Linked DNA regions of Homo sapiens. The protein of the gene in region 1 interacts with the protein of each later gene in a biochemical or structural test. Each region holds a gene or a part of one and is shown in the gene's direction. Other genes may lie near its edges. The genes, in order: APBB1, ELMO1, TSHZ2, ABI1, ALK, CPSF7 and CYFIP1.

The links.
Region 2: the proteins of APBB1 (region 1) and ELMO1 form a complex in vitro, tested with the Homo sapiens proteins (one study listed by BioGRID).
Region 3: the proteins of APBB1 (region 1) and TSHZ2 form a complex in vitro, tested with the Homo sapiens proteins (one study listed by BioGRID).
Region 4: the proteins of APBB1 (region 1) and ABI1 form a complex in vitro, tested with the Homo sapiens proteins (one study listed by BioGRID).
Region 5: of the proteins of APBB1 (region 1) and ALK, one has a biochemical effect on the other in vitro, tested with the Homo sapiens proteins (one study listed by BioGRID).
Region 6: the proteins of APBB1 (region 1) and CPSF7 form a complex in vitro, tested with the Homo sapiens proteins (one study listed by BioGRID).
Region 7: the proteins of APBB1 (region 1) and CYFIP1 form a complex in vitro, tested with the Homo sapiens proteins (one study listed by BioGRID).

What each region holds. Positions count from the first base shown.
Region 1 is NC_000011.10:6,405,595-6,409,094, reverse strand, and holds part of APBB1 (amyloid beta precursor protein binding family B member 1), read left to right. Parts: intron 1-3,431; exon of another isoform or gene 3,432-3,500. UniProt on the Homo sapiens protein: Transcription coregulator that can have both coactivator and corepressor functions. Adapter protein that forms a transcriptionally active complex with the gamma-secretase-derived amyloid precursor protein (APP) intracellular domain.
Region 2 is NC_000007.14:37,225,365-37,228,864, reverse strand, and holds part of ELMO1 (engulfment and cell motility protein 1), read left to right. Parts: intron 1-3,500. UniProt on the Homo sapiens protein: Involved in cytoskeletal rearrangements required for phagocytosis of apoptotic cells and cell motility. Acts in association with DOCK1 and CRK. Was initially proposed to be required in complex with DOCK1 to activate Rac Rho small GTPases.
Region 3 is NC_000020.11:52,978,858-52,982,357, forward strand, and holds part of TSHZ2 (teashirt homolog 2), read left to right. Parts: intron 1-3,500. UniProt on the Homo sapiens protein: Probable transcriptional regulator involved in developmental processes. May act as a transcriptional repressor.
Region 4 is NC_000010.11:26,850,959-26,854,458, reverse strand, and holds part of ABI1 (abl interactor 1), read left to right. Parts: intron 1-3,500. UniProt on the Homo sapiens protein: May act in negative regulation of cell growth and transformation by interacting with nonreceptor tyrosine kinases ABL1 and/or ABL2. May play a role in regulation of EGF-induced Erk pathway activation. Involved in cytoskeletal reorganization and EGFR signaling.
Region 5 is NC_000002.12:29,218,587-29,222,086, reverse strand, and holds part of ALK (ALK tyrosine kinase receptor isoform 1 precursor), read left to right. Parts: intron 1-1,251; coding exon 1,252-1,381; intron 1,382-3,500. UniProt on the Homo sapiens protein: Neuronal receptor tyrosine kinase that is essentially and transiently expressed in specific regions of the central and peripheral nervous systems and plays an important role in the genesis and differentiation of the nervous system.
Region 6 is NC_000011.10:61,416,476-61,419,975, reverse strand, and holds part of CPSF7 (cleavage and polyadenylation specificity factor subunit 7), read left to right. Parts: coding exon 1-27; coding exon of another isoform or gene 28-54; intron 55-3,456; coding exon 3,457-3,500.
Region 7 is NC_000015.10:22,973,869-22,977,368, reverse strand, and holds part of CYFIP1 (cytoplasmic FMR1-interacting protein 1), read left to right. Parts: intron 1-3,500. UniProt on the Homo sapiens protein: Component of the CYFIP1-EIF4E-FMR1 complex which binds to the mRNA cap and mediates translational repression. In the CYFIP1-EIF4E-FMR1 complex this subunit is an adapter between EIF4E and FMR1.

The sequences.
Region 1 (3,500 bases):
CTTTCTCAACAACAACAACAACAGTTTACTTTTGCATTTCTGAAAGATAAAACTCTTAAAAAAAAAACCCACCACAATATCATTATTGTACCTACAAAAATTTAATAATAATTCTTTAATATCATTAAATATCCTGCCAAAAAAAGGCTGGATTGAGCCTGGGCACAGTGGCTCACGCCTGTAATCCCAGCATTTTGAAAGGCTAAGGTGGGTGGATTGCTTGAGGCCAGGAGTTCAGAAACAGCCTGGTTAACATGGTGAAACCCTGTCTCTACAAAAAACACAAACATTGGCTGGGCATGGTGGCTTATGCCTGTAATCCCAGCACTTTGGGAGGCCGAGGCAGGTGGATCACGTGAGGTCAGGAGTTCGAGATCAGCCTGGCCAACATGGTGAAACCTTGTCTCTACTAAAAATACAAAATTAGCTGGGCGTGGTTACAAACGCCTGTAATCCCAGCTACTCGGGAGGTTGAGGCAGGAGAATCACTTGAACCCGGGAGACAGAGGTTGTGGTGAGCTGAGATAGAGCCATTGTACTCCAGCCTGGGCAATAAGAGCGAGACTCCTTCTCAAAAAAAAAAAAAAGAAGGAAAAAAAAAATGTAGAGACAGTGTCTCACCATGTTGCCCAGGCTGGTCTTGAACTCCTGTTCTCAAACAATCCTCCTACCTTGGCTTCCCAAAGCACTAGGCTTACAGGTGTGAGCAACCATGTCTGGCCTGATCTATCTGTTAAAGTTATGTTTGATCAAGTTCCCCTTCTATTTTTTTCGTTGTTGTTGTTTGCAGTTTTGCTTTTGTTTTTTAACTGGAGAATCATGTTGCTTGTCCTGAGTTTTCTATGGTTTGGATTTTTCAGACTCTCTCCTGTGGTCATATTTACCATGCTCCTCTTCCCCTGGATTTCCTGTAAATTGGTAGTTAGTTCTAGAGCCTTGATCAGATTCAGATTTGAGCATTTTTGTGTTTTGCTTTTGCAAGAATATTTCATAGGTGGTATTAAATACTTCTACTAGGCCGGGCGCGGTGGCTCACGCCTGTAATCCCAGCACTTTGGGAGGCCGAGGCGGGTGGATCATGAGGTCAGGAGATCGAGACCATACTGGCTAACAAGGTGAAACCCCGTCTCTACTAAAAATACAAAAAATTAGCCGGGCGCGGTGGCGGGCGCCTGTAGTCCCAGCTACTCGGGAGGCTGAGGCAGGAGAATGGCGTGAACCCGGGAAGCGGAGCTTGCAGTGAGCCGAGATTGCGCCACTGCAGTCCGCAGTCCGGCCCGGGCGACAGAGCGAGACTCCGTCTCAAAAAAAAAAAAAAAAATACTTCTACTAAAGGCAAAGTCTGATTGCCTCTCTTTTTTGTGATGTTAGTGGCCTTTGGTGGTCATTGTCTCAACTCCTTTTAAAAGGAACAGCCCCTCCTGCACTCCAGCTGATTATTTTTGGGATTGGGGTGAGGAAAAATATAGTCTCAATGCAGCCAGTTAAAGGGAAACTGAAAACTAGATATTGGTGTAAAATAGCCCAATTTCTAAACGTTAACAACAAATTCTATTTTTTAAAAAGCACTGTGCAGGCCACACACAATCTATCTGAGGCTTGCATCAGTCTGCAGGTTGTAGGTTGGAAGTTTGCAAGACTAGGGGGTGTGAGTCAGTGACCAAATAGAGGCCTAGTTGCTCACTTGCCCCTGGGATGGTCACTGTGGGGGCTGCAACTCTGAACTACCTATGAAGCTTCTAGGAGTAGGGGGATAGTACTGCTGAAGAGCTGGGGCGGGTTTGCTGGGCAGTGACCTCAGCAAGGATGTTGGAGTGGCAAGAGGATTCTCAAGGATCATGCACTGGTGGAGACATTGTGAATTGAGGATAGAGGTGGGGGCCAGCCCAGGAAAGGGGCCAAGTCACTCTTTTACAACTGTGTTGCTATGACCATGAGGGCTGCAGAGAAGGTTTGTGCTCCTGCAGAAATGAGGCTAGAATTGAGCAAAAATTATATTCTCCTTCCTATTGTAGGATATTCATAGAGCTATGGATTGAATGCATAAATGCATGAATTCATGAATTAAATGAATGATGAATGAATAAACTTTACTACCTGTATTGAATTCATACTCTGCTCCAGGCCTTATCGTAAATGCTGGAAATGTATACTATGGGGCAAAGATGTTCTTACCTCCTGGCCTTCACAGCCTGGTGAGGAGACAAAGAAAGAAACAAGTGGTTATGATCAGTGCGATGAGCTCTCTGGGGCTGGGGAAGTACAGGAGGGGCCCCTGACCCTGCCTGTGAGAGTGGTGGGGGAGAGGGCAATGGGTCAGTTTTAAGAAGGGACCTGTATACTGATGTCTGAAGGAGAGGTAGGTGATAGCCAGGTGAAAATCGAGAGTAAGGGAGGTGGGCTGGGAGAGGACAAGGGGGCATGTCCCAAGCAAAGAGAGAGAAGGGGAGTGGCTGGAGGTAAGGCTGAGAGGCAGACAGGGGTTCATGACAGCACATAAAACCTGGGGAGGAATTTGGACTTTATCCTGAGGGCAGTGACAAAACAATTAAGAGGATTCCGTTGGAAAATTACTTGATTAGTTTAGCATCTCAGAAGAATCATTTGGGCTGTACTGTGCAGCTGAGATTGGAGGAGACCAGATAGGAAGAGAAAGACCAGTTATGATGTTTTTGCAATGATGCAGGTTAAAAAAAAAAAAGCTAGTAGCCTGGGCTATGTTAGTTATGTGGGGTGGAGAGAAGGGGAAAGCTTTAAGTCAATCACTGATTCCTGAGCAAGTGAGTACACCTGGCTTCACCACTAAGGCATTTGTGGATGAACGAATGAAGGAAGGAAGGAATGATACGTGAACATTTAATGTATTTTATATGTAAGTGTCGCATGAATCGATGCAGGAGTGAAGGTGTGCGTTCTGGAATAAATGCATGTGTGTGAAAGCAAAGGCCGGGGTGGGCTGCGCTTGGAGGGAGATGTGCCAAGCTCCAGAAGGGCCTCCCAGATGGCCAAGGGGGGAGAAACTGCCCTTCCAGGACAGATCGGAAGGATGAAGCTCTTTGAAGCAGGAAGGTACAGGCTGACAGGGATGGCAGATGGATTGGTGTGTGTGACTCAGTCAGGAGATGGTGAACTGGTCCCCAGATTCCAGAAGTGTCCAGCCAGCCCTCATGAAGCAGGCTGTGGCTGTGGAGGGCATGGAGGCCCTAGGGTGCTGTTCCTGGAAGGTTTTAGCAGGAGAGTCCTGAGGCAATGGAGGGTCTCTAGGGAACAGCAGGTATTCCCTGAGCCTCAGCTAAGTTTCAGGTGCCTATTGAAAACCTTATTCCATAGAGTGTGAGTTAGGGGGAAGTGGGGGTGAGGAGAGGCGGTGATGGCTGCCTAGAAGGTGGATGGGCAAGAGCCCCTCCTCTTTGGGTGTCTGTGGGCCCACGTCATTTGGAAGCTGAGGATGGTGAAGCACCCTGCCTGAATAACTCTCGTCAGGTGTGCAGCCACCTTGG
Region 2 (3,500 bases), on another chromosome or scaffold:
GCCCACCACCACGCCTGGCTAATTTTTTGTATTTTTAGTAGAGATGGGGGTTTCACCATGTTAGCCGATCTCCTGACCTCGTGATCCACCCGCCTCGGCCTCCCAAAGTTCTGGGATTACAGGTGTGAGCCACTGTGCCCGGCCCTCCATGATTCTTTTAGGTTTTGATAACATAGGAGAATTTTAAGATCTCATTCTAAGTGATTCTAAGAAGTATTTATTGGATCGTTGATTCATGCACTGTAATGCCCCTTAGCTTCTTAAAAGTTACATAAGTATTTCTCTTATTTAGCCAAGATTTTTAAATGAATGAGCAGTACAAGGAGCTAGTGTGTATAATTAATTACTGCTAACTCCTCTTGCTTCTTCCTTATGTTACAGGCCTACTTTCGAGAAGCTGTACTGTGGCTGGCTTGGGTTGGCTCACTTGTGTCACCCAAAAGTACAGTAATGGAGCTGGGATAAATTGAAAGGCAGAGGGAATCATTATTACTCTTTTGGGGGATAAAGGAAATGAAAATTTAAATAGGCATGAATAACCTTCTCTAGCTATATGAAGATCTATAGTTTTCAAACTGGACGTAGAGACATGTGTCCATTAACTAATTTATACATTCAGTTATAAGGAGTTGGTCTCAAGCTCCCTGGAGGACGACAGTTATTACATTCACTTGGATCAGCCCTGATGCGTTGGTTATTAATACTCATTAAGTGGAAGTATTAGGTCATTTGAATATCTGGCTAAAACCAGTGACAAATAAAACAAAAGAAAGAAGTTAAGTTTCAGAAAACCATTAGCATCTACTTCAGACTTGTACATAGGACTGTAATGCATTGAGTGCCCCAGGTGTGTTACACAAAATGCTCATTATGTAACATGCTTTAGGATTGCTGAAATGATTAGTTTATTTATGTCAAGGAAGAGGTGAATTACTAGGAACATGAATTTTAAAGAATACTTTCATGAAAGTAAGGGATTCATTTCTTAGGAGAAAAATAATGAATGGAAATGGAATATGTATGTGGGATATAAATATGCCTGAATTAAAGCAAAGACAGCAAATTATTTTTACCACCATTGAGCAAGCCCACTGGCAGCAGAGAAGAGTTAATGATTTATAGAGAACTTTAAAACCCATTATGAGAAGGTATACTTCATATCAGAAAACACTGAGTGTAGGCTGGGTACCGTGGCTCATGCCTGTAATCCCAGCACTTTGGGAGGCCGAGGCGGGTGGATTACTTGAGGTCAGGAGTTCGATATCAGCCTGGCCAATCTGGTGAAATGCCATCTCTACTAAAAATAGAAAAATTAGCTTGGCGTGGTGGTGCATGCCTGTAATCCCAGCTACTTAAGAGGCTGAGGCAGGAGAATTGCTTGAACTGGAGAGGTGGAGGTTGCAGTGAACTGAGATCATACCATTGCACTCCAGCCTGGGCAACAGAGCAAGATTCCGTCTCAAAAAATAAAAAATAAAAAAGAAGAAAACACTGAGAGTTCTGATTGAATATTTCAAGAAAGGAAATATTGTAAAAAGGATATTTATGGAAGTAGGCAACTAATTCAGGGGGTAAATTTCCATTTGATGGAAAACTTGAACATAAAATAAACTGCAGAAGATTATGTTTCAGTAACCCAGCAATGAGTTAGACCACTGGGCCAGTGTTATTTGTATATACTCTGTATCAAAACGGAGACATGTCAGATGTATCACAGGGATATAAAATAGGCAGCTGGAAATATGAATCACCAGTGATTATGGATTCTTAGAAAAGAGTGATAATTGGGAAGAGAGGAGTAGGAAGACAATGAGATTGATAATCCCCCTTTTTAATTTTTGGCTTTTTTGGAATATCCAAATGGTGGCATCCTTTTGGATGCCAAGAATAGGCCCGCAGTGTACTTCATAGTAAATGCCTTTTTATCTGTCCATACTAGACTGTAAGGTCCTTGAAGTTTGTTATTTTCATCTTTGTATTTCCAGCTCTGTGGGACAGGGCAAGCCTGTTACATAGTACACACGCAATGCATGTTACTGAAATGGATCACTTAATGATGAGTAAATATTGGCTGAATGAAAAGAGTGGATAAAGATGGAGGCGGAGGGTGCTTGACAATATCAGCAACAGCTTCTCAGGCAGAAGCCTCCATGCATCCTTAAGGCACATCCAAATTTAATAAATAGAGACAAGCAGGGGAGCCGGGAATGAGGAGAAAATTAGTTGCAAGAAAATCTGAAGTATTGTCAATGAATTTCTTTATGAGTTCTTCAGTTTCCTAATACCAGTGCCAAGAATTATGCCGAGAGCGTGAAAAATGGTTTGGTGGGGTGGGGGAGGAGTCAGATAATTTATCCTCTGTTTAGAAGATGTCTAAGTTAAGTATTAAACCCTGAACACAGTGTGACAATAATTGGATTTTTGTCAGAGAAAGATGGACCTAGGGAAAGAAGGGTGGCCTTAGCATGGTAGATTTGGTGGATTGGAGCAGACTGCGAGGAATAAGTCAAGGGCTTGCCAAGGATAGTAAACATGTCGGAGAAGGTTATTAGCCATGAGAAGAGCTGAAGCAGTCTTTTGAGAACCTGAAAATTTCCATACTCTTCCTGAAGTTTGTATTTTAAAATAATAGCTTTTCGGAATGTAAAATCATAATGTCACTGCACTTCTTCACATTATTTCCCACCCCTGAGATCCAGATGTAGCTGGGGTAGGCAGAGTGTTGGTATCTGCGTCTCCCACCCCTCCTTTCACCTGGAAATCAGCGGACTAGGGACAATTCCGATGGTACCTGGGAACTGCCATGGTGTGCTGTGCATTTATCATGTGCAAAGATGGAGAGGAGATGAGGCAAGTGGTCTCTGGGGCAGCAAAAAAGGGAGAAATTAGTGTTGACAGGGGGGAAGCAGCAAGAGTTTACTTGTCGTGGAACCAAGTTATTTAGCTTTTAAGAACAGTCATTATGCTGATATAATAATGGCTTTTTATTGTGAGCTGTCAACAGACAGTAATAACTTTTAATGAGGCCTCTAAAATAAAACCTTTATGGTACCCATGTGTTTGGATTACTGCGATCCATTATTCTAACCTCTATTTTATTTTCCGCTCACATTGTGATTTATTATGTTTGGGGATTTAGTGATTAATTCCTTAGAGAATCTATTTTGGAGCTTAAAGTAGTATTTTAACTTTTAGTACTGCTCACTTAAATGATTTCCTGTTTGCTAAATTTGGGAGAGATGAAAAGAACTTGTTTTAACCATCAGAAATTGGAAGAAAGGGGTAACGAGTTTTTCGTTTAAGAGAGTGGCCGGTGACTGAGAAGTTGCCAGTTGAATTGTGTTGACAAGTGAGATTTGTGCGAGTCCCTTAAGAATGCAACAAGAACATAATAAGCATATAAAAGCCATGGATTGTGTGGATGAAGGAGTAGCCTGGGAATGCAAGAGGAATGGCAATTAACATATGTTGACATTACCATCCCAGAGAAACACAGGTAT
Region 3 (3,500 bases), on another chromosome or scaffold:
ATCAGGGAGAGCTTATCCTTCTATCTTTATAGAGTCTGCTTACCCCAGAATAGGTTTTTACATTCATTTTTCAGTAATTTGTAACAATTGGTATTTTTAATTTTTTTTTTAAGTTTTACAAGTTCTATTTAAAGTTAGAAATTCTCACATTCCTTAGGGTGATCTTTGGCAAGCAGCTCTTCGATTATAGGAGGAAGTTAGTCATTCTAACCACATAAGAAAGTGGAGAGTACTTGCTTGCTTACCTGAATATTACAGTAAGAAAAAAACACCATCTATTTACATGCCTCTAACATGTAACACTATTTTCACTGGATTTATAATTTCTTTTTTTTTTCCTCCTACTGACCTTTCATTCACTTGTTTTGGGAACTTTTTCTGAGAAGAACGTTTAGAGATAGCATTTAAAGTGGATTTCAAGATACATCAGATTTTAAGACATTGTAATAAAAATTAGAGACTTCAGAGCCCAACGGTTCACTGCTAGTCTAGGTCTGCAAACTAATGAGAAAGCACCTCTGCAAACACATAGTTTCAACTTTAACTTGCACATGAATGGGGAGCGTCTCCAGCAGTGTGGCCGTATCCATATTGCTCATTTTGTCCGAGAAATTATTTTGTCCAAGGGTATCAGACTGAGGTCCGTTCAAAGACATTATATACATACACAGAGACACAGAAGAGAAATCTGAGATGCGAGTGGGAATTGCTGATATATTTGTTTCCAAAGCAAACTCCATGAATGAAATGATTCAATAATTTGGAGGCATTTGAAAGTCATTAAAATGGCCATTTGGAATTTTCAGTTGTTGCCTCCCTCAATTTTTTACGTTTCCCCTGTAGAAAAAGACATCCTCTGGGCACCCTCAAATATTCTGGGATGCTAAAGTCATGCTAAAATTATTTACAATTTTAGAAATTAAAATTCAGGAGGCACAGCAAGATAATCCGATTATTAATATATCAGTATTATTTAGCTATGCATAACAACAGGAAAACGCACAATGCAAAAGTTTTAGAGATAATGAGCTTAGAGAAATTACATGGGGGGAAGAAATACCTGGATCATATTTGAAAGCATTTGTCTTGAATTCTGCTCATCTAAATGAGAGCTCTCTTTCTACCTGTGTCATTTAAAAAACAATTTCAATATCCTCCTACCTGCTACCCCAGCCTGAAGCAGGGACTAATGAAACTCTCTCTGGACACACAGATGTAAGACACTATATTACACAACACTTTTTAAAAAATTGTTTCAGAAAACCAAATGTGGGCATGCAAACCAAAAGAAAAACCTCAAGGATCTTCGTAAGATAGCTAGCTCAGGGTTCAAGATCAAGAGAACTTTGTTGCGGCAGGATAAGAAGACAACAGCATTGCGTTTTAGCTAAACATCTCTTCTTGGCAAATGAGAAGCGGTGAAGCAGGGAAGATTTTTTTAAGGAGCTTTTTAGCTCTTTTGCATCTCTCTCCAAAGACTAATTTAATTGAAAAGCTGTAGTGTCCATTTATGATTAAGGAAAGGCCTCATGTTTCCACAACACTGCTAGACACTAAGGTGGGTTTGAAGAAAAAAAAAAAAAGGCCAGCATTCTGCAGTTTCTGTTAGTATAAAAATTAAGATCACTGGTCTTAATTACTTGAGTGCTTTCAGAACTGAAGGAATACTCTAAAATCACCCCTGAGCTTTCTTCTTAAAGCCACATCTAAGCCATTTCTATGGAAATTATATAGTTTAGATATTAAGGTGGGTAGAATACAGTTATTGCTTTTAATGAAAATAGTTACGAAGGGCAGAATGAGATAAAAACAGAGTTGGCAGCAGCCATTCTATTTGTAATGAATTTGAAAGAAACTTCCGTAATGCTTTACTGGATCATGAAAAACCCATGAAACCTTGTGACATGGGAGATACAAAAATGAGACAGAGGGTCAAGGTCTTCTATAGGGGAAAAATGGCTTGTGTAAGTGAGAGCAGTGGCATATAAATATCTCTATATAAACTGCACAGGGCTTACTTTAAATCACTTCAATTTATCAGATCCTTGGAATTTTTTTTATGTATTTAGGAGCCTCTCTTTTATACCCCAGAGAGATATGAATAGCTTCTGGGCCAAGATGATGCTGTAGAGAAGAGTCAAATCTATTCTATGTGCACGGTGCCATTTGGTACAGAAGAAATGCCAAAATGAAAAGCCATAAATGCGTTTTATATCAGAATTGCCTTTGGCTATTTTCCTTTATTAGAAAGTTGGGTACACTGCTGAGTGCTTCTTCTTGTTTTCCCCCTTGGGATTAGATTTGAGACTGTGGATGGAACAGCGGAGTAAGGGCAAGTGACTTGGGTTCTGGTTGCAGCCTTGCCCCACGCTAGTTATTTAGCCCCGGGCAAGCTCTAGAGATAAACCTTACTCTCCGGGTAAGAATGTGAGTTTTTGGAGTCAGACTGATTGAAGTTCAAGTCTCTAGGTCTAATTCTTATTCGGCCGCGTAAACTTGGGCAGGCTGCTCAAATCTCTGCCCTCCACTTTCTAATCTATAAAATGGGGGCAATCATATGTTCCAGGTGTGTGGAAAGGATTGTGTCAGAGGAGGGCTGAGAAAGTGTGCTGAAACTGTTAGGCACCACAGGGATACGAGGGAATAGTGTGTCTTTACCCTGAATAACCAGACTATGGAAAATTTATATTAACTGGGAAACAAGCAACTTACCAGTTATCACAGAACAAGGGGTCCAGGGCTTGAAAGAAACCAGATATGGATGGATTTTGATTTGTAAGCCTGGAAACACAATGGCTAAGCAGTGTTTTAGCCTCTTCTCCTGAGGCAGACTCATTCTGGGCTGTTTGGAGTCCAGCACCCGCTCAAAAAAGAGTTTCTTTCCCAAGAAATAGAATTTATAGCACCACCAACAACGGTAACAATGGTAACAATGATATCTGCCACTAAACAAGTGCTTTTTACATACCACGTGCTTTATATGTTTACATTTATTCGTTTACACGGCAGTTATTTCTTGAGTTCCTACTATGTGTCAGATGCTGTTCTACTACCTGGACCTGGAGGTGAATAGGATGGGGATGATCCCTGGGGATCTTGCCCTCCAATTGGGGGAAGCTAGAGAATATACAAAGAAATTTATAAAGGAAAAGATAATTTCAGTATAGAAAAAAAGCTTCATGATGGCAATAGCTTTATAAAAGCAAAATTATGAGAGCAGGAGTTGGGACAACAGAGATGTAGATGGTCAGGGGAGACCTCTCAGAGGAGGGGACATCTGGGCTAAGTCCTGTTCCTTATAACTTTCAAGTATAATCCCTGTTTTACTGATGAGAATCTGAGTAAGTTGCAGGATAACTCATTCAAGTTCGTGCGGTAGCCAAGCTGAGTTTTAAACTCAGCTCTTCCTGCTTCCAAAGTCCATGCATTTAATTTATTATGATCGTTTATCTAGAATAGTCATAGCGAGTTGCCAGGAAGGACCCAAGGAAGAACCCTCA
Region 4 (3,500 bases), on another chromosome or scaffold:
TTTTTTCTTCTTTCACACCAAGTCTGTGAACCCAGCATATCAGTTCTTATGAAAGTCCATATCACATATATCAGTTCTTGCTAATACTCTCAAGGTGAGAATACTGCATATTTTTAGGACTATATAATATTTGCAAATTTGTATTAAAACTAATGTCTTCTCTTTTTTCTTTTGTGGCTTTAATACTAATAACAGCTTTATATGTAGTACTTCTGACTAGTCCTGGTCTGTTTAGAACCTCAATTTTAGCATGCTTCTGTCTTTTGGAGAGTTTTCTTAGAAAATTATTGAAATAATCTCTTAGGATACTTGCAAATTTTTCTTGTGTGCTTCTGCGTTCTCCAGTTGATTCTGATAGCTCAGGAATGCTAATAGTCCTTGTGGAAAGGAGATATTTAGGCAACTGGGGATCTGCTGTGTGACCATTTACAGTAACCTTATTTATATTCAGTGAAATTATGTCCTAAGAATTAAGACAGTTAACAGTCAAAAATATGTTAGCCAGAAAGGAAGAGTGTTCATATTGGGACAAGAGGTTGGATCAAACTCTAGGATATTGTGCAGATATAAATCTATAAAACCCATGAAAATAGTGTTGGCATGAAAAGTAAGGTAAAGGCTGGGCGTGGTGGCTCACACCTGTAATCCCAGCACTTTGGGAGGATGAGGCGGGCGGATCATGAGGTCAGAAGATCGAGACCATCCTGGCTAACATGGTGAAACCCCGTCTCTACTAAAAATACAGAAACAAAGTTAGCTGGGTGTGGTGGCGGGCATCTGTAGTCCCAGCTACCTGGGAGGCTGAGGCGGCTGAATGGCGTGAACCCGGAGGCGGAGCTTGCAGTGAGCTGAGATTGTGCCACTGAACTCCAGCCTGGCAGCCTGGGTGACAGAGCGAGACTCCGTCTCAAAAAAAAAAAAAAAAAAAAGTAAGGTAAAATTGATAGTTAATGCTAATTTTGAAGCATTTACAAAGTTTTGATTGGGAGGTTGTATATTTTTCCTAATATCATCTTGTGTTGATTGTAATATTTATTGAAATTATGGTTTGATTGTAGAAGAAATAATAGTCAAACCCCAGAACTACAAACTTTGTAGATCTTAATATTTACTAAGACATCATGTTAGAAAAAAGGGATTTTTTTTAAAAAAAAAAAAGGGCATTGTTGAGAAATAAGACAATAGGAAAGTAGCAATTACTGGATTTTTTTTTTTTTTTTTTTTGAGATGGAGTCTCGCTCTGTCACCCAGGCCGGAGTGCAGTGGTGTGATCTCGGCTCACTGCAAGCTCCGCCTCCCGGGTTCACGCCATCGATTTTGTTTTTAAAGGAAATAGTTGACGTGGTCATTTTAACAGTAAATATCCATCCCTTAGAATGGAGACTTGAGATTTGACTACTGTGTGTCAATCCAAATAAGTACTTTTAACTTTGGATCTACTAATTTTCTCCATCTACAAAATAAAACTTTCTCAGACATAGTTGGTAGTGAACCCGTGTTTATGAAGAAAATCTGTTAATGAGGGACCACACCCAGCTAATTTTTTGTAATTTTTGTAGAGATGGGATTTTGCCGTGTTGCCCAGGTTTGTCCTGAACTCCTGGACTCAAGTGATCCTCCTGCCTTGGCCTCCCGAAGTGTTGGGATTACAGGCGTGAGCCACCATGCCCGACCAGCAAAAACACATTTTTGAAAAACTTCAATTTACCTTTAATTCACTCATTTCCTGAATGCTTTATCATTAATTTTTATTAATAATTTCTACATTCTTTGACAAAATTGTATTTGGTACATTTTATTTTTCCTTCTATGGAAAGGCAAGTGTGGCACTTTTTCAGAACCCATGGGAAATTAATGCCCTCCACTTAAACATCAGAAATGTATATATTATATCATATAGAAAAAGATGTTTCCTACTACGTCAAATATTAGCAACTTAAGAGTTGTAACAACAGATGCTTATTTTATTTTATTTTTTTGAGACAGAGTTTCGTTCTTGTTGCCCAGGCTAGAGTATAATGGCACAATCTCTGCTCACCTCAACTTCTGCCTCCTGGGTTCAATCAATTCTCCTGCCTCGGCATCCTGAGTAGCTGGGATTACAGGGATGCGCCACCACGCCTGGCTAATTTTGTATTTTTAGTAGAGACAGGGTTTCTCCATGTTGGTCAGGCTGGTCTCGAACTCCCAACCTCAGGTGATCCACCCATCTCGGCCTCCCAAAATGTTGGGATTACAGGCGTGAGCCACCGTGCTCGGCCCAGATTCTTATTTTAATAAGGCAATATAGAGAAAAGAGTACATGGGTGCCATTTTATTTTTAATTTTTATGAGGGTTGGGGTCTCCTATGTTCCCCAGCTGTCCTCGTAATTCTGGGGTCAAGCGATCCTCCCATCTCAGCCTCCTGAGTAGCTGGGTCTACAGACTTTCCCCCCAAGCCCCTCCCACCATGCTCAGCTCATGGGTGTCATTTTAAAATTGATTATTACTCAAAAGTGCGCCCTCAACATAGTTAGGCAATCCCACTAGATAACCTCGCCAGTTTGTTCTTCCACTTACCACAAACTATTTTAATTTTTTTCTCCCTTTTTGAAATCTGACCCTTTCCTTTCTTGTCTTTTGGTTCATAGAGAAAATAGACTTCATCATATAAGACCTATAATTTCTTACCACTGCATCTCCAAACCTGCTATCCTCGCTCACCCTATTCTACTCCTTTTTATAATGGAAGAGAGACATTCTTCCTCCTAGCTAAAGTCCTAACTGTGGGTCATATCCTGTCCTGCCTTTTTGTAAACCTTATGCTCCTGATAAGTTTATACCTCCTCTCTTTACTGAATTTGTGCTTTCACAATTGAAACATTTCAGATCTCTGTCGTACTTGAAAACTCTTTTGACTTCATATACTCATCTAGTAACTGACCTATCTCTCCTTTATGGATTAACTAGTTTTATTACACTATTGTCAGCTAGCTGCAGTGGCTCAAGTCTGTAATCCCAGTTACTTGGGAGGTTGAGGTGGGAGGATTGCTTGAGCCCAGGAGTTTGAGATCAGCTTGGGTAACAAAGCAAGACCCTGTCTCAAAAAAAAAAAAAAAAAAAAAAAAAATTAGCTTAGTCTGTAGTCCCAGCTACTTGGCAGACTGAGGTGGGAGGATCACTTGAGCCCAGGAGTTTGAGGCTGCAGTGAGCTATGGTTGCGCCACTGCACTCCAGCCTGGGCAACAGTGAAACCCTGTCTTTTAAAATAAAAACAAAAAACCAAGCATTTTCCTCCATCTCCCACTTTTCATTCACTCTTTAACCTGTTCTATTTCCACTGCTCTCTGAATGCTAATAACCTCCATGTTGCAAAATTCTTTCCCATTTTAGTTCTCATGTGCTTTTTTTCTCTGCATCATTTTGCATGGTTGGTTTTTCCTACTTTTTTTGAGAAGTTAATCCTTTGGCTTCTCTGATAGACCTTTCTTTCATGCTTTTCCTATTACTCTCTGGCCCA
Region 5 (3,500 bases), on another chromosome or scaffold:
TATCCACTGGTTCTTCTTCCCTCACTTTTTCTTAAGAAATGGAGCATGCTAGACTTTGACAGTACAAGATATAATCTCCCTCCAAGACCCTTCACCAATCCCAGTAATTGTGCTTCTAATATGATGGGAGGCCACCCCATCCTAGGCTCCCATCAGCAGGGCTGAGTCTCAGCTGGCTGCACCTTTTGACTTGAGGCTCCAAGATCTGGATTTAAGCTGAGAGTCTCAGTGCCTATGGCTCCTGAGGGCGTCCGCTGTGACAGCAGATCCCCTCAAGGAGGGGGCAGATATTTGACCTCAAGATCAGGTGGGGGCTCATGGCCCCCTGTCACACTGGGAAGACTCTGAACGTCCTGACAGGTGGGGGCAGACTGGGATGTCCCCTTGGTGGAAGTGGCAGGGGTAACAAGGCCAGGCAGTGTGAGTGATATGGCTGTGAGGTCTGGAACCACAGGAGGACACACAAAATAACATTTATTTTCTGATGATACATATAATTCCTGATTATGAATAAAACTTGGCAAGTATGAGATTATATTGAAGAAGACCCATATCACTCAAATCTCACTACTTGGTGGTAACTAACCATTATTATGTTGGTGTCTAATCACCCAGTCTTTCAACACTTGGGGGGCTGTGTGTACATGTGTGTATGCACACACATGCATGTTGGCCCATGTGGAATTCCTAGGCCCTACTGCCCTGTGTGTCCTAAAGGGATCATGTTAACAAGAAAACCCAAGTCTTGGTCCCTCCCATGAGGAATCCACGGGAAACTGATAGACTCGTGAGGCCATCCCCTTTTGCTGGCTCTGTTTCACACGCTGTCACTTGGCAAGTCTCACCCAGTCTCTCTTGGAAGCAGTTGTTTTGCTTCACCTTCTGCCTGAGGCCTTCCTGGGAGAAATCGACCATGAATTCTAGCACCCAGTCCACGCACCAGTATCTGAGAAAGACACTCTCCTGCCCCCTGAGACACTTCCTCACCCAAGTGCCTGAGCAACATCCTCACAGCTCCAGCCACTCTCCTGCAAATGGAACTCCTGTGGAGCCTGCTGTGGTTCTTCCCACCTGCTCACCAGCAAGATTCTGGGTTTAGGCTCAGCCCGGGACCCCTGCTGCCCATGTTTACAGAATGCCTTTATACATTGTAGCTGCTGAAAATGTAACTTTGTATCCTGTTCCTCCCAGTTTAAGATTTGCCCAGACTCAGCTCAGTTAATTTTGGTTACATCCCTCTCTGCTCTGCAGCAAATTCAACCACCAGAACATTGTTCGCTGCATTGGGGTGAGCCTGCAATCCCTGCCCCGGTTCATCCTGCTGGAGCTCATGGCGGGGGGAGACCTCAAGTCCTTCCTCCGAGAGACCCGCCCTCGCCCGGTGAGTGAGAACCAGTCTTTGCTGCAGTTGTTGTGCCAAGGACAGGAGCAAGGATGGAAGGAGCAAGAGTGGGCAGCCTGGGTAGCAAGTTCCTCGATGGAACCCAGGGTGTCAACTTTAGGCTTGGACAGGGGGGTGACTGACTGGCTGGAAGAGAATGGACAGAAGATAGAGGTAGATGATGGCTGAGCCCCAGCCCCAAGGAGCTTGTGCAAGGCTCCTGCAATGCATTTGTATTAGTCCATTCTTGCATTTATATAAGAACTACCTGACTCTGAGTAATTTACAAAGAAAAGAGATTTAAGTGGCTCATAGTTCTGCAGGCTGTACAGGAAGCATGGTTGGGGAGGCCTCAGGAAACTTACAATCATTGCAGAAGGTGAAGGGGAAGGAGGCACGTCTTACATGGCAGGAGCAGAATGAAGGGGGAAGCGCTGTACACTTTTAAACAACCAGGTCTCATGAGAACTCACTCACTATCATGAGAATAGCAAGGGGGAAATCCACCCATGGTCCAATCACCTCCCACCAGGCCCCTCCTCCAACACTAGGGATTACAATTCAACGTAAGATTTGGGCAGGGACACAAATCCAAACCATATCCACATTCTATAGCCTGGATCCATTCTCATGGCCTGCTGACTCTGGAAAACCAAACTAGAGACAAACACAGAGGAGAACTTTCATGACAGCCATGTAACTACTCAAGCAACTGACCTGGGCAGGTCACTCTGCAGCTACTCATTCAGAGCCCACAGTCCTCACGTCTCAAGTAGGGATAATAATACCTGGACATTCCAACCGTATATTTAGGAAGGTGCTACACACATCTTATGGTTAACAGAGCTTGGGAAGTGAAGATACCCAGGGTGGACCCAGGAATCCCAAGCTCCAGCTCCAACTTGGCCATTAGACACCCGTGTAGTTTAGGGCAGTCTTAAACCTTTAACCTGGGTATCCTCACAGGTGAGATCTGAGGATTGGACTAGAACATCTCAAAGGTGGTTCTAAATTATTAAACATAGCACCCTGGGCAGACCCAGAGCCCAGCTGCCCATGCTTGGGTCTGCAGGTCTTCAGCAGGCCCCGGATACCAGGAACTGGAGCTGAGCAGGCCCCAAGGTTAGGATCCAGGCTTCCTCAACGAACCACTGTACTATGGGGATCACAAGGAAGACTTGCACAGTAAAAGCAGCGGCCACCCTCCCGCTCCCAGGAAAGGAGGGAAGACTGACAGCCAGTGGTTCCAGAAAGCCCAACCTGACCACACTGCTCAAAGGGACTCAAAGTGGTGATGGAAGCCCTGCAAGGTCATAGCTATTCTGATCTCCACCTTCAGTCAGGATCCATGTAAAATACCTTCACCTTAGCCACTGGGTGACGCATCTCAGTATCTAAGAAGAATACTGTCTTACCCCTTGAGAAGAGGAATTTGTGTGCACCTGAGCATACCTGGCAGGAGGACTGGGCAGGGAGCAGGGAGATAAAGACTACACCTGTCTGTCTCATAAGAGCCCTCATCAGCTGGCATCCTCCTCAGACCTTTCACATTTCTCAACACCACCCTATGAACAGACAATGCAGGTCTCTCCCCAATTCTATGGATGAGAAAACGGTGGCCCAGAGAGATTACGGGACTTGCCATGGCCACACAGGAAGTGGAAGAGCTGGGACTAGAACTCAGGCCTTGTGACTCTTGATTCAGTGCCCTCTCCAACTTACTGCTTATCCAGTGGTCCCCTCTGGGAAGCTGTAAACTATCAAGATGAGGTTGTGTCCTTAGAGCCAACACTGCCAGGCATCCAGGCATCTCTGCCATGGTACAGGCATCAGATTCACTGGCTTTCCCACCACCACCTAGGAAGGCAGAGCCTTTGGCCCTCATGCCCTGAGATTCTCAGCAGCACTGCTGTCAGTGGGGGACACGTGGCATCACACTTTGGGAAGAGGCACAGCCCTGGTTCTCCCACTGGACCTTCCTGAGGCTTAAGGAGAGAAAGTTGTATGCATGCAAAGGAGAGGGACTTTGCAAAGGGAGTCTGGGAGCCCAGCACTTGGCAAGTTCAAGGACTTCGGGGGCAGGAGATGGCAGGAGTGAGGAGTGGTGTGTCTCTATCTC
Region 6 (3,500 bases), about 55 Mb from region 1:
CACAGTTTGAGGCACAGGCTCGGAAACGTGAGTGTGTCCGAGTCCCAAGAGGGGGTACGTGGAGACCATCTGTATGAGGGGGGGGTGTTTGTGGGTTTGTTTTCTATGGTGTAGGCTTAGCCTACAGTGTGGGTGAGTTTGGGGGAGGGTGATGGTGGTTGTGAGTGGTGTCATGGTCGACAAGTAGTCCTCAGAATAGGTCTATATAGAAGAAAGAGCATTGTGCTGGGAGTCAAGTAGGTTCAGGTTGTAGTTTGGTTCTGCCACTGACTCGTGTGACCTTGGCCAAGTCACTTTACTACTTAGGGCCTGTTTCCCCATCTGGACTAGTGACATGATGTTTAAAGTTCCATCACCTCTAAATTCTGTGTTTCTGTCTAAAACTTGGCATTAGGTGAATGGGCTTAATTTTTAAGACATGCCTCTCTATAAATTATCAAGAAGCAGCCACCCTAAAATGTAACTAAAAGGTGCCTATAATCTTTTCATAAACGTTGATTGGAAGGATACTGTAAGGAATCAACCAAGAGGAGTGTTGGAGAATAAGACTTGAACAATATTTCTCCAGCATTGTCCAGGGGAGAGGGTGCTCTTTTGATTACCAAATGTTTTAGTCTGCTTGGCAGTTATATCCCATTAGTAAAGAAAGTTACAGGCCGGGCGCGGTGGCTCACGCCTATAATCCCAGCACTTTGAGAGGCCGAGGTGGGTGGATCACGAGGTCAAGAGTTTGAGACCAGCCTGGCCAACATGGTGAAACCCCATCTCTACTAAGAATACAAAAATTAGCCGGGTGTGGGTGACACATGCCTGTAATCCCAGCTACACGGGAGACTGAGGCAGGAGAATTGCTTGACCCCGGGAGACGGAGGTTGCTGTGAGCTGAGATCAGACCACTGCACTCCAGCCTGGGCAACAGAGCAAGACTCCATCTTGGAGGGAAAATAAAAAAGTTAGGGGCTGGGCATGGTGGCTCACACCTGTAATCCCAGTGCTTTGGAAGGCTGAGGCGGGCAGATACCTGAGGTCAGGAGTTCGAGACCAGCCTGGGCAACATGGCAAAACCCTGTCTTTACTAAAAATACAAAACTTAACCAGTTATGGTGGCACATGCTTATAATCTCAGCTACTCGGGAGTCTGAGGCAGGTGAATCTCTTGAATCCAGGAGGTGGAGGTTGCAGTGACCTGAGATTGCACCACTGCCTTCCAGCCTGGGTGACAGAGTGAGACTCTGTCTCAAAAAAAAAAAAGAAAAAAGAAAGTTACCTCAGAACTACCTTAGTTTGAGGACAGTTTCCCCAATGTCCATCTTACTCTCTTTATTCTGACTGTACTCACTAAGCCACTTTCTGATGCTAATTTGGTTTCCCAATTAGGGTCTCCTACTAGGAAGAGAATTCGCTGACCAGCCGACACAAGTATTCTGGTCTGCTTGGCAATTACATTTCTCATTGTAAATTAATAAATTGGTGTTATGGTTTATGAATCAGTCTCTTGTGAGTTTGGTTAGCATGAATCAGTCTCCTAGGGCCTAGTCACCCCAGTTGAAGCAAGTTTCTGAACCTGAGAAACCTGAGGACTAGACCTTGGATTTTCCTGACCTCATAAAGTGCAGCCACCCTGCAAGACCTTCCCTGAGACAGCCAACCACCCTTATTTTCTTTTGCTACAGTGGGAGGAACAGCAAAGTTTCATCACTGATGTTCTGTCACTGCTTAGGTCCAGCTCTCAAAATAGTGCCTTGTATTGATTGGGTGTATCCTCCAGGTAGAAATAGGACCACTTTGCTCTTGCATAGGAACAGCTGTTCTTTTAACTAGATTGACAGCCTAGATAGATTTGGTGTGAACTCTTGTTGTTCCATGTTAGAAAGGACACACTCTTCTTCCTTGACAAGTTGTATTTTCAAGTCCCCTCTGTTTTGGAGTCTTTCTGTAATTCACCCCTGACTTTCCTTAGGTATGTAATTTTACAACTGTATTGGGGGTAACGTTCTACTTCTACTCAGCTACTTTTCATGTTACTTTTTTTTGCTGAAAAGATTGTGTAACTGAGTGCTGTTTTTCTGCTCTGTCATGCTGATGGACCTGGGCTCTGTTAATTCACTAAGTAAAGCTGGTGGACTTCCTCTGCATAGAAATGTTGCGTCTTTTGGGACTTGTAGCCATAGATACAAAACAACCTTTGCAGATGTGACAACAGTAGTAGCTGGGAAAGTGGTTAACTGTCAGATGACACTTGCCTTATACCTTTTTGTTCTTCAGTTTGAGAGAACTCTAGGAAAGAGCCAGTTGCCATGTGTTTGAGACCTGAAGAACAAGACAGCACTGGCACTGTTCTGTAAGAGAAATCTAGGTGGTTGTCAACATAATTGATTCCACCTTAGGCTTTACTCAGGAGCTGGGATTAACTATCATATTCTAGTTTAAGGAGCACTCTTTCCTCCACACTTGCTGCCAGTGGCATCTTTCTATCTCCAAGACCCCCCCAAAGCCATGTGATCTTGTTCTTCTATTGGATTCCACAATAAACAGGCTTAGACTGTTAAACTGGAGAGAAGGAACAAGTTTAACCAAGTGACTTGACAATGTCAGAATCCATGCTTCCAGCTGTTTAAAACATGTTCTGAGCTCCTGTTGTGCACAGCACCATACTAGCATGTGGTGATGGTGTTCCTGTTAGGCTGCCCTGAAGGGTAGAGGATTTTGGCCATTGAAATGTAGCGGGAGTTCCCCAGATTGGAGACATGTTTTGTAGCAAGCTTTTGCTAAGCATCCTTACTGTCAGCTGTGTGCTATCTGCTTGTGCTGTGGGCGGATCTTTTATTGGCGTATCTCCCAATTTTTCTTATCTTTCACTTAACCTCCAGTTGTCTAGTCTTCATGTGTGTCTCTTTCTCACCCTGATTACTAGTTTTAGTATGTAAATAGAAGTGCCATCCAGTTCCTGCCACTCCCTCTCTTCCCTTAAATTCCCTAGCCAACACCCTGTGGCAAAGAGAACATTTTAAGTGTGCAACAGGAAGAGGTTAACTAGTATTAGTTTAAGGAGAGAGGTCCTGAACTCTTCAGGAGATGTGGGGTTTCAAGTCAACTGCAATTCACCTGAACATCAGTGAACACTGTCATTTTCTCGTGGGCTATCAGGATCCTTCTACATTTAAAAATAGAAGATACATATAAGGATAAATTAAATCTGTTCTGAAGCACTTCTGGAGTTATGGATGGAAAACATTCTTTGACAGGATTTAGGACGATATTGTTTTTTGGATTTAATGTCTTCACTGAGTTGCTTCTGACCTCTGAAGCCAAAAAAAAGGCAGTAGATGATTTTACCTTCTCAGCCTCTTTAGTCACCTTCCTTTGTAGGGTGTCTGATAACTTCTGAAGGATGAACTGGTCCTGTGGGTTTGTGTAAAGCCTGGGCAGTAACATCAGTTCTGTTTTGCTTCATAGGAATACCTCCACGGGCCCATTCCCGAGATTCTAGTGATTCTGCT
Region 7 (3,500 bases), on another chromosome or scaffold:
TACAAATTGGAAAGGGAAAATTGTCCCTATTTGCTGACAACATGATTATCTACATAGAAAATCCAGGGAATCTATGAAAAAGCTACTAGAACTAATTAATGAGGTTAGCAAGGTCACAAGATACAAAGTCAACACACAGAAGGCGACCTTATTTTTCTTTTTTTTTTTTGAGACAGAGTTTCATTCTTGTTGCCCAGGCTAGAGTGCAATGGTGCGATCTCGGCCCACCGCAACCTCTGCCTCCCGGGTTCAAGCGATTCTCCTGCCTCAGCCTCCCGAGTAGCTGGGATTACAGGCATGTGCCACCATGTCTGGCTAATTTTGTGTTTTTAGTAGAGATGGGGTTTCTCCGTGTTGGTCAGGCTGGTCTGGAACTCCCAACCTCAGGTGATCCGCCTGCCTCGGCCTCCCAAAGTGCTAGGATTATAGGCGTGAGCCACCGGGCCCGGCCTGGCGACCTTATTTCTGCATACAGCAGTGCCCCTTATCCATGGGGAGATACATGCAAAGTCAACACTATACAAGCTGACCTTATTTCTGTTTACAACAGTCCTTGTTATCCATGGACGATACGTTCCAATGGAAGCCTGAAACCTGAGATAAGACAGAACCCTCCGTGTACTGTGGTTTTTTTCCCTATACATCTATGCCTATGATAAAGCTTAATTTACAAATTAGGCGCAGTAAGAGATTACCAACAATAACTGTTCATAATATAGAATAATTATATACTGAATAAAAGTTATATAAATGTGTTCTCTCTTTCAAAATATCTTTTTGTATGCACTCACCTATTTTTGGAGGGCAGTTGACTGTAGGCAGCTATAACTGGGGAAACAGAAATTGCAGATAATGAAACTACAGGTAAGTGGGGACTACTGTACTAGCAATGTACAATTAGAAAGTTAAATTTGGCTGGGCGTGGTTGCTCACGCCTGTAATCCCAGCACTTTGGGAGGCCGAGGCGGGCGGATCACAAGGGCAGGAGTTCGAGACCAGCCTGGCCAACATAGTGAAACCCTGTCTCTACTAAAAATACAAAAATTAGTTGGGCATGGTGGCGTGCGCCTGTAGTCCCAGCTACTCAGGAGGCTGAAGCAGGAGAATCGCCTGAACCCGGGAGGCGGAGGTTGTGGTGAGCCGAGATCGCGCCACTGCAGTCCAGCCTGGGCAACAGAGCGAGACTCCGTCTCAAAAAAAAAAAAAGAAAATTAAATTTAAAAACACAACATTTCGTTTGCTTCAAAGGAATCAAATACTTAGGTATACATTGAATAAGACTTACAGGATCTGTATGCTGAAGATGAGAGAAATCAAAGATCATTTAAGTAAATGGGGGAACATACCATGGTCAGTGGTTGGAACACTCAACATAGTAAAGACATCAGTTCTCTTCATATTGATCTATAAATTTAACCCAATTCCAATTTAAAAATATTAGCATGCTTTAAAAACAAAAATTTTAAACAAAAATTTTGTTTATTGAGGTATAATATACCTACTTTATAAAATTCACCTACTTTTAAGTATACGTTTGGCTGGCCTGTGAACGAGGGGGTTAGGGATTCCAACCCCCTGTGCAGTTGAAAATCCGAGTGTAACTTTTTTTGAGATGGAGTTTCGCTCTTATTGCCCAGGATAGAGTGCAATGGCACGATCTTGGCACACTGCAACCTCTGCCTCCTGGGTTTAAGCCATTCTCCTGCCTCAGCCTCCCAAGTAGCTTGGATTACAGGCATGCGCCACCACTCCCACTAATTTTGTATTTTTAGTAGAGAGGGGGTTTCACTGTGTTGGTCAGGCTGATCTCGACCTCCTGACCTCAGGTGATCTGCCCGCCTCTGCCTCTGCCTCCCAGAGTGCTGGGATTACAGGCGTTAGCCACCGAGCCTGGCCTTTAACCTTTTTTTTTTTTTTTTTTTTTTTTGAGACGGAGTCTCGCTCTGTCTCGGCTCACTGCAAGCTCTGCCTCCCGGGTTCAAGCGATTCTCCTGCCTCGGCCTCCTGAGTAGCTGAGATTACAGGCACCCGCCACCATGCCTGGCTAATTTTATATTTTTAGTAGAGATGGGATTTCACCATGTTGGCCAGGCTGGACAAGTATAACTTTTGACTTCTCAAAAGTTAAAACTACGTGACTTCCCAAAAGTTAAAACTACGAATAGCCTGCTATTGACCAGAAACCTTACTGATAACATAAACAGTTGATTAACAGAGATTTTGTAAGTTATATGTATTACATACTGTGTTCTCATAATAAAGTAAGCTAGAGAAAAGAAAATGTTGTTAAGAAAATCATGAGGAAGAGGAAATAAACTGACTACTCATCACGTGGAAGTGGATCATCAGAAAGGTCTCCATCCTCAAAAAGCTCACAGTGAGCAGGCCAAGGAGGAGGAAGTGGATGGGTTGGTTTTGCTGTCTTGGGGGTGGCAAAGGCAGAAGTGGAGGGAGGTGGAAGGAGGGGCTAGAGAGGCAGGCATACACCGTGTAACTTTTACTGGAAAAAGTCTGCAAATAAGTGGACCCGCATGGTTCAAACACGTGTTGTTTCAGGGACAACTATACAATAATTTTTAGAAGATTTCTGGAGCTGTGCAACAACCATCACCATAATCCAGTTTTTGTTTGTTTGTTTTGAGACAGGGTCTCACTCTGTCACCCAGGCTGGAGTGCAGTGGTGTGATCTCAGCTTACTGCAACCTCCGCCTCCTGGGTTCCAGTGATTCTCATGCCTCAGCTTCCCAAGTACCTGGGATTACAGGAGGTGCCACCAAGCCTGACTAATTTTTTTGCATTTTTAGTAGAGGAAGGGGTTTCACCGTGTTGGCCAGGCTGGTCTCGAACTCCTGGCCTCAAGTGATTCATCTGCCTCGGCCTCCCAGTACTGGGATTATAGGCATGAGCCATCGTGTCCGGCCTGTTTTTGTTTTTTTAATTTTAATTATTTTTTAAATGGAGATGGGGTATCACTATGTTGCCCAGGCTGGTCTTGAACTTCTGGGCTGGAGCAATCCTCCTTTCCTCCTGAAAGTGCTAGGATTACAGATGTGAGCCACCAGGCCCGGCCTTGCTCATCTGTTGATGGACAGTTAGGTTGATTCCATGTCTTGGCTGTTGTGAAAGGTGCTGCAATAAACATGGGGTACAGCGATCTCTTGGACATACGGATTTCATTTCTTTTAGATATATACCCAACAGTGGTGTTGCTGGGTCATATGGTAGTTCTATTTTTAATATTTTGAGGAACCCCCGGCACTGTTTTCTACAATGGCTATACTGATTTACATCTCCACCAACAGTGTACAAGGGTTTCCCTTTCTCCACACCCTGGACAACACTTGTTATCTTTTGCCTTTTTGACAAGAGCCAGTCTGACAGGTGTGAGGTGATAGCTCATTGTGGTTTTGATTTGGATTCCCTGATGATTAGCGATGTTGAGCATTTTTTCATACACCTGTTGGCCACTTGTACACCTTCTTTTGAGAAATATCCATTCA